Linked DNA regions of Homo sapiens. The protein of the gene in region 1 purifies or fractionates together with the protein of each later gene. This does not show direct contact. Each region holds a gene or a part of one and is shown on either strand. Other genes may lie near its edges.

The links. The genes of interacting proteins can lie anywhere in the genome.
Region 2: the proteins of RBFOX1 (region 1) and RNF25 purify together in Homo sapiens (affinity purification with mass spectrometry; 2 studies listed by BioGRID and IntAct, with this or other methods). This does not show direct contact.

The regions. Positions count from the first base shown.
Region 1 is NC_000016.10:7,710,492-7,714,916, reverse strand, and holds the end of RBFOX1 (RNA binding protein fox-1 homolog 1), read right to left. Parts: exon of another isoform or gene 4,295-4,425; coding exon 4,172-4,294; 3' UTR 1,577-4,171; downstream 1-1,576. UniProt on the Homo sapiens protein: RNA-binding protein that regulates alternative splicing events by binding to 5'-UGCAUGU-3' elements. Regulates alternative splicing of tissue-specific exons and of differentially spliced exons during erythropoiesis.
Region 2 is NC_000002.12:218,664,907-218,669,727, reverse strand, and holds part of RNF25 (E3 ubiquitin-protein ligase RNF25), read left to right. Parts: intron 1-1,048; coding exon 1,049-1,123; intron 1,124-1,386; coding exon 1,387-1,489; intron 1,490-1,581; coding exon 1,582-1,649; intron 1,650-1,746; coding exon 1,747-1,816; intron 1,817-3,497; coding exon 3,498-3,569; intron 3,570-3,668; coding exon 3,669-3,812; intron 3,813-4,480; coding exon 4,481-4,573; intron 4,574-4,821. UniProt on the Homo sapiens protein: E3 ubiquitin-protein ligase that plays a key role in the RNF14-RNF25 translation quality control pathway, a pathway that takes place when a ribosome has stalled during translation, and which promotes ubiquitination and degradation of translation factors on stalled ribosomes.

The sequences.
Region 1 (4,425 bases):
CTGCATGCACTGGCCAGGTCTCTTAAACTTGTTTGCTTCTGCCATCAATTGTCTCTACATTTCACATAAAATTTAGATGCTTCTCTATTTTGGATAACAGCCTGCTTTTGGAGATTCTAATGTAAACTGTATCTGTCATCACCTCTTATATCCTCCTATTTAGTGGAGAAGGGCTCAGGTATAAACCAGTATTTTAGGAAACCCTTATCCTCCCTCCCACCACCTGTGAGGATAAAGCTAGCGACTTGTTTTAATTAACATCCATACATATTGTGTAAGGAGAGCACAAGAATCCCAAATTTAATGTCACCACTACCACCATCACCATCGATAATAAAGCAGGCACAGACTTCAGGGTCCGACAGTTCTTCATGTTGTGCCCTCTTTCAACACTTGCTAGATACAGCTTTGGGCAAATCATATGACCTATCGGATCCTTCCTGTCCTCATAAAATAAGGGTAACCCTATCTTTAAGGATCAGTTGACATAGGCCAATACAAGTTGATTTATAACCGGCATGGTCTTCATATATAAGGAGTTTACAGAGAAGGGATGATTAAATATACTGAAATAAGATAGATGCTGTGAAGACAACCTGCAGTGTGGAAAAAAAAATGATTGCAGAACAAAGAGTCTGCAGGTGGCACACAGGGTTAAACTGCTCATGTATAAAGTTCTTATTGGTCAGGTGAGAACATGCCTCGTCAGTTAAGGGTGCACGTTCTGGAATCCTAGGGTGATCACCTGCTTGCTCTGTGACCTTGGAGAAATGAATCTTTGTGTCTCAGTTGCTTCACCTGTGGATAATAGCTTACAGTTTATGAAGTACTGCTGCAAGCACTTTATTGAGATTGCTTTCTTCTGCATAACAATATTAGGTCAGTGAGATGATCCTGAGGTGCAGTTGGGGAAACTGAGGCACAGCACTTTGGTTTAATTCATCCTGGATTGCCACCAGCAAGTTGACAGAATCAGGGTGCACACTCAGAATATGTTTCTAGAACGCACATGTTAAAAATCTTTCAGTGATACCAACTTAATAGGAATATTAAGATATAATGAGATAGGATTAAGATATTAAGTAACTAAATGGGGTGGACAGTTCAACCCTGATTTTTAAATAAGGAACACACGATTTTTGGCTCCTAATGAGCACTCAATGTATGTGAACTCTAGCACTTACTATATTTTTTTCATCTTATCCGAGGTGTCCCAAAAAGTAATTAATAGCTCAAACATATTTAAGATGAGTGATGTATTTTGTTTTAAACTGAAGACTTGATACTTCCATGCTAGGAGATAGCTAAGCTTAGTTCAGTTTCTTAAACAGCCAGGGTGAGTTCCACTGACTTCTTTGGGAAAATGAGTGAGGAAGGGAAAGATTTTAATCCAGAAAAGCAGGGAACTTGCAGGAGGCATCTGGTCTACTGGTGGCCAGGGCAGCCTCCTGCTCACTTGGGCAACACCCACCCCACATCCCCGGGCGGGCCCAAGTGCAATCACAGCTGTGGATAACAAATCTACCCACTGAGAGAGAAAACCCATGGAAGCCAAATAACTCAGAACACCAACTTGTACCTTTTCAGACTAAGCTTTTATTTTTTTGATATTACAAACCAGTTTTCTTTATTCACAAACCACTGTAAGTGATATAAACACTAATTTCTAAAGACAGATATACACATTTTCTGGGTTTGCAGATTGCGTGATGTGTGTGTTAAGAAGTCACTATATGCCACACATAATATTAATTTTCCATAATTCATAATAGCAATAGTTATTTAGATAAATGAAAACATTCCAAATAAATACTGTTTAAAAAAAATCCAAAATGTTTGTTTACATCTCTGACATACATTTTAAAATGACTTATTGGCATCTTGGAGTGCCTAGACAAAAGATTCTGCAACATCGGTTGGCACTCACTCACTCTAAATGATTTTATTAAAACTACATACAGTCATGGGGGAAAGTACAGCTCATTGATGAAAATCAAAACTGCAAATGAATTTTACTTTAACCAACACAGTAAGAATTCTATGTTTGTGATTCGAAACACAATACAAATTCTGGATTTTGAAATCTGAGGCGGCAATTGGGAGAAATTTATTCTCCATAGCCCCCTGCTCCTACTCTTTCTTCCCTCTGGAGGATGTCATAGTGTTTTAATAATTCGTTTCCTTTAAGAACATCAACCAGGCACCCATTGCCATAACACTGTTTTCCAGGTGGGGGAATGAGAATGTCTTAGTGATGCTATAAAACACCCTCTTGCCCCTCCCCTCACCCACCCAAAGAAGTCTGGTGAAAAGAACACTTTATATGCTTTTGGCTGATAAGTAGCTCCCCCCTCCCCCTTTTCTCTTTTCAAGATCACTATCGTCTGTCTTAGGTATCGAAGCTACAGAAACTTTGTTTTCAAATCTTGTGAAACTTTATTGATGGTTTAATATCCAACTGATCTTACGGCATGCACATAGGATGGCAAGAGAAAGCTGGATCACACATTTTTTTTTAAAGTTTTGTTTGGTTTTGTTTTAAAGCAGAGTTGTTACAGCGGATTGGCAGGTTCACAGCGGTGAGAGTTGATAACTTACTGAAGTGCGGGCCACAGGGCCTGCACTGTACACATGAGGACTTAACCTATGGCAGCAAAACTACTCAGGGACAGCCTGCTGCTGTTGTTTTTATTTAAATACAAAACAGGAAGACCCGTGACGGATACCCCAACTTAAGTTAACTTGTAAACAGGACAACGTGGAAAGTTCAAACAGAAGTACAGACAAACTGCAATTTTTCGGCTGTGTCACTCTGGCCCTGCATCCGAGAAAGGTGGGGAGACTTTGTTCTTTTGGGATTAAGAGGGTGGATGTACTTTTTTCTTTTTTTGCATCCTTCTGACAAGTGTCCTGGGCCTTGGAGACAGAACTAAAGAGATCATTTTGAGATAATCCTTGGGGGTATGGGAAAGAGGTGGAAGGGCAGGATCTCACGGACTGAAAAATTGCAGATTGTTCACACAACGCAGTCACGTTTCAAAAAGTACCAAGCTGATGAAAATACCATGATTATCTCTACTCAATGATTGCAATACTTGTAAAATGCTTCTATAAATCCGAATATGATTATCATGTAATTCCATAAAAATTATACGTCTGTCTCTAACAGTTGTTCTACTAGGCTAAAACTAAAGCTTCATAGACTGTTTCTAGAACTTAACAACTCCACTGCACAGATGTAAATTTTATACATTTTTTTTAACTGGTACAAAGAATTTAAGTTTTTATTACTTTCTTTTTTTGGAAAAAAAGAAAAAAATAGAAACAGTGCTTTTTTATCACCTTTTTATTAATGTTATTTTTTCCCTCCCATAATATAAAAGTCAGCAGTGATATCAATAATTTATTATACTGGAAGAAATATAAAAAGAATGCTTGTTGATGGCCTAACTAGTGGGTTTTTTTTCCTAAATAGCGACTGGTTAAGAAGCTGAATACTGCCGGGTGGAATGGTTTAAAGGGTGGGTTTGCACAGCTTCATTCAACTCAGATGCACAAGTGCTACTAGAAGCACCCCCTTAACAACATGACCTTTGGCTTGAACTGGCAATGAGTAACTTAGAACCATTGATAAATGATTGTTGGTGCAGTGGGTCGTTTAGATTCATCAGTTACATTTTTTTTTTTTTCTTTCAGCCAAACCCCAGTTCCAATCCCCTAAGCCCCTCCCAACCTCCCCTTTCGCAAAATAAAATAATGCAGGTGCAGAAAAAAATGACTACTGTAGTCACTTACACTCTTCCCAAATAGCTGATAACCCCAGTAGCTTAATATTCAGCATATATAATTCATTTACATAATATAGCACTCTGGATATGGCCCTAAACCAGTTTTTATTCATTATCTAGCATCTGTCTAGATCAACCACAAAAACTCCTACAGCCAGCAACCAAACTACGGAACCTTCAGAAATTAAAGACCCACAATATTAAAATACACAGAACAAAATATCTGAGGTATAAGATAAAAAATGTAATTTTTTTTCCTTTTTATTTGTATTTTTTTTTTTTTTAGAGTTGCTAAAATGATGTACTACTGCATGTATTGCAATACTCAGGCCTCGGAAAGCTTCCTTTCTCCCCACATTGGAAGGTTTTTATGGTTTTGTCATTTAGTATGGAGCAAAACGGTTGTATCCCCCTCGGTATATACTAGCCTGCAATGAAGAAAGAACGAGACCCACATCATCAGCATGGCTCCTAGTCTTGGCATCAGTCAAAGGTGCAAAAGCATTCTGAAACAAAGCAATTTGAGGGGTGTGTTTTTTACATTTTCCTTTTGCAACATGTGGATCATCAAAAAGACTAATGTGAAAAATAGACACTCAAAACCAACCGAAATGGAGGCACCCCCTACCCATCCCAG
Region 2 (4,821 bases), on another chromosome or scaffold:
CTTAGAATGAAGAGGGAGCAGTGTGAGAAAGCAAAGTGTGCATTTTTCCATGTATCACTTGGTAGAGCTGTAGACACAAACTGATCACTCAGCTTCAATTTCATTACAACTGCTGTTTCTATGCTTAAGTATGTGTGTCCCTTGATTTACATCAGAACCATGGATCCTAACCTCAACAGGCTGATCTAGATCAACCAGACAGCCAGGTCATAAATACATCCAGAGTACTCTATTACCTCCTTCCTTCCCTCTTTCCTTCTAAGGGAGAAGGTTATATACAGACAGGAAAAAAAGAGGACGTAGACTAGCTACGATAGCCCAGATACTATTAGGTACTTTATGTAAACAAATCACCTTTTATCCTCACAATAACCCTAGAGAGTAGGTGTTATTATCTATATGTGACAGACAGGATAACTTAAGCTTACAGAGAGGTCACGTCCCAGATTGCATAGCTTGTAAGTGATTGGTACCTGTTAACTAACTCCGAGGCTGCTGGCTCTTCCATTACAACACAGCCTTTATACCACCCTAAATATGTTGTGTTGAGGTTGCTATCTCCTTTAAGAAGGCTTAGGGTGACTGGTGTTAAAACTGTATGTAGACAGTAGCCAAGGCACTGGGATCCACACTGGACAGTGACGTAGGGAAAGGTTGGAGTAATATTGGTAACGTTAATGCTAATGAATGAGTGCCATATCTCTAGACCAGAGATTCAGCCACTAAGGGGAATGAAACTTAAACAGGGAGTCAGGAAACCTGGCTCTGGGCCTAGTTCTACCTATGTTAAGCCTTGGTTAGTCATTTTACTTCTCTAGAATCCACTTCTTCATCTGTTGGCAGAAATGATGCCTAAAATTCTGATTTCCATGCCTTCTATTTGGCCAGTTGACAACTTAAGGTAACATATTCCTTGTTTTTAAGGAGTTTAGCAGGAGAATGCATTCTGGTAGATTGCCATTTTTCTACAAAGCCTGCCTTTATTGGCCTTAGCAGGCTTCCACAGGGAGAGCTGTAATGGTAAGTTAGTCTACTCCTGTCTCTCTAGGGTCCTTCCCTCTGAAGTTGAAGTATTGGAGTCCATCTATCTAGATGAACTACAGGTGATTAAAGGAAATGGCAGGTATGTATTCAACCAGTGGTGGGCAGGAGTCCCCCTAGTAATGAGGAGAGGTTCTATGCTGAATTTGGGTCTTAAGACATTGTGAGCCTTGATTCAGAGATAATATTTCTCTTGTGTAGACAAAAGCTATTCCTTTAATCCTACCCCAAAAGAAAGAGTCCAATGTGTACTTCCTTTGCCCACTTCACTGTCTCAGCCCCATCCTCCCCAGCCCCCAAGCCCCTACCCAGTCACATCTGCGTGTCCACTTGATCCACCTGCAGAACTTCACCATGGGAGATCTACATCACTTTGCATCCTGCCACTGCAGAGGACCAGGATTCACAGTATGTCTGCTTCACTCTGGTGCTTCAGGTCCCAGCAGAGGTGAAGCCCCTACTGTGTGGCAGCAAAGGGAGGAAGGGGAGAGTCCCTGGGGTGGACCGCTTCAGCAGTAACTTGTTATTTGCCCCCACTAGTATCCCCATGAGGTGCCACAGATCTCTATCCGAAATCCCCGAGGACTTTCAGATGAACAGATCCACACGTAAGTTGAACCTGTCAGAACAGGGAAAACTCAGCTACAGCTTTGCCCGGTGACAGAAATGGGCAGGTCTAATATTTGGTTTGCCCTCTTCCTCCAGGATCTTACAGGTGCTGGGCCACGTGGCCAAGGCTGGGCTGGGCACTGCCATGCTGTATGAACTCATTGAGGTAAGAGGTGCGCTAGTCTGAGATATGTTCTTTCCTTCAAGCTAGAGCAGTTTCTAGCTGTAAAAGGGAAACCATGGGCCTAGAATCTTAAACGGATCTGGAGTCATTAGGTAAGGCCTAAATTAATCCAGAGAAATGAGACTCTTCTATTTGAAAAACTTCCCAAAAGACAGTTCAGTAGCTTCTCCAAGTTGCCTATGCCAGCATCTTGACAGAAAATGACTTTTCCTCTTCACCTTGAATTTTTCTTGCATCAGTTTCAGTATATGTCTTGTTCTCTTGGCACTGGCAACTGAAAGTGGCAAAAGATACGCATCTTGCTTGGGGGCGTCTTAGCCATAAATGAACATTTGAAGGCTAGACTGCCATTGGACCTGACTAGAAAAAGTCATGGTTGGCCAGGCACGGTGGCGGGCATTTGTAATCCCAGTTACTTGGGAGGCTGAGGAAGGAGAATCGCTTGAACCCGGGAGGCGGAGATTGCAGGGAGCCAAGATCATGCACTGCACTCCAGCCTGGGCAACAGAGTGAGACTCCATCTCAAAAAAAAAAAAAAGAAAAAGTCATGGTTCCTTTACTGAAAGAGCTTATACACTGCTTGATGAAACAACCCACATGAAGCAACACCTGAAGCTCCAATATACACAGAAAACTTTTATTGTTTGAGATTAAAAATATAAAATTAAGTACAGTTTTATTTTCCCCTAGTTTGTTTATTTATTAATTTTAATTTTTTTTTTTTTTTTGAGACAGTCTTAGTCTGTCACCCAGGCTGGAGTGCAGTGGTGTGATCTCAGCTCACTGCAACCTCCGCCTCCCAGGTTCAAGTGATTCTCCTGCCTCAGCCTCCCAGATAGCTAGGATCACAGGCATGTGCCACCACACCCAGCTAATTTTATATTTTTAGTAGAGATGGGGTTTCTCCATGTTGGCCAGGCTGGTCTTGAACTCCTGACCTCAGGTTATCCACCTGCCTCAGCCTCCCAAAGTGCTGGGATTATAGGCATGAGCCACCACGCCCAGCCTCTCTTAGTTTAAATTTTTAAGAAAAATGTTCAGAATAGAATGAAGGTGGGTGGCTGAGAGTCAAAGAGAGTGGGTTTGATAGGCCACCGTAGCAGTCCTAGGTCAGGCCTCCACAATGCAGCCTTGGACTTTGTGGAATTCCAGAGTACACTATTAGCTATTCAAATAACAATTCAAATGCATAGTTCACAGCCCAACTCAATGCCTTGTGAATTCTCTGTCCATTTGGGTTGTCCATGCCTTGTCATGCTTTCTGAAAGCTGACTTAGAACAAACACATTGCCCCATGGGGGAGTGATATTGAAGGGGGCTAATCAAGAAAGGCCTCCCAGAAGATAAATTTTAATTGAACATTTTTTTTCTCAAGGTGTATTATTTTCATCTCCAAGATATATTAAAAGTGACTTAATGAAAGGAAAAACAATTAGGTTGAATTTTGAAACCAGGAAGATCAAATTTTGGGGGAGGGGCAGAGATGTGGAGAAGGATTGATTCCCAGCAGAGGGAGCGTCACCAAGCCAGAAATGCATAAACACAAGGTAACAAACTGGCCTGCTAGGAGCCAAGTCTAGCCAGTCACTCCTAGGAGTAGTAGACAGGCCTTGCTCACCGTTCTTCCCCCTACCCCCGTTTAATCAGTGTCTTCTCTCCTCAGAAAGGGAAGGAAATTCTCACAGATAACAACATCCCTCATGGCCAGTGTGTCATCTGCCTCTATGGTTTCCAGGTGGGTTTCTCTCTTGGGACCTGGCATTCTGTTTGGGACCAGCAGATGAGGGCTGTGAGAGAGCTCTGACTTAGTGCCCTACATCTGCCTTCCCTCTAGGAGAAGGAGGCCTTTACCAAAACACCCTGTTACCACTACTTCCACTGCCACTGCCTTGCTCGGTACATCCAGCACATGGAGCAAGAGCTGAAGGCACAAGGACAGGAGCAGGAACAGGAACGGCAGCATGCTACAACCAAACAGGTAGACCTCACTGCACCTGCACACTCATCTGACACCCTTAGGCACAGCCTTTCACAAACTTTTCCATCTCTCCACTCCAGTGGCTCTTCACTTTTTCAGGGTCATAGATACCCTTGAGATTAATGAACTCTTACCTCTGTCCAGAATAAAGGGCATCCTTTTTTTTTTTTTTTGAGATGGAGTCTCACTCTGCCACCCAGGCTGGAGTGCAGTAGCACAATCTTGGCTCACTGCAACCTCCGCCTCCTGGGTTCAAGCAATCCTTCTGCCTCAGCCTCCCGAGTAGCTGGGATTATAGGTGCGAGCCACCACGCCCAGCTGATTTTTGTATTTTCAGTAGAGACGGGGTTTCACCATGTTGGCCAGGCTGGTCTCAAACTCATGACCTCAAGTGATCCCGCCCGCCTCGGCCTCCCAAAGTGCTGGGATTACAGGCGCGAGCCACCGTGCCTGGCCAGGGCATCCTTATATACACTTACATATTGCATGCAGTTTCGGGGGGTTCCCAGATCTCTAGTTAGACAACCCGTGCTCTGTCCCAACTCACTGCTGAACCGGTGTCCCTGTGCCCTTTAGTCCCAGCCCTCTGCAGATTAGGTTGGCTGATGGGTCAGCACCAGGGGGCATCCTGGGCTGTGACACAGGCATATGATTTTTCTCTTTTTTAGAAGGCAGTCGGTGTGCAGTGTCCAGTGTGCAGAGAGCCCCTCGTGTATGATCTTGCCTCACTGAAAGCAGCCCCTGAACCCCAACAGCCCATGGTAAGGAGACTTTTTTCCAATCTGAGCCAGGAGTAATGGTATTTTCTAAAGAGTAAGGAATGGCATCTTGTCTGTGTCAAATGGGATCTCTGAAATTGGGCTTGAACTGCCTAGGACCTCTCTGCAAAGCCACATCCCCCACTGGCGGGAGCCTAAGACTCTGGGAGCCCAGACCTGAGGGGCAAAACCAGTGCAGATCTCCTGAGGCAGCCTGGGAGGAGTAGAGGTTTGAGTCAGCCTTCTGCTGT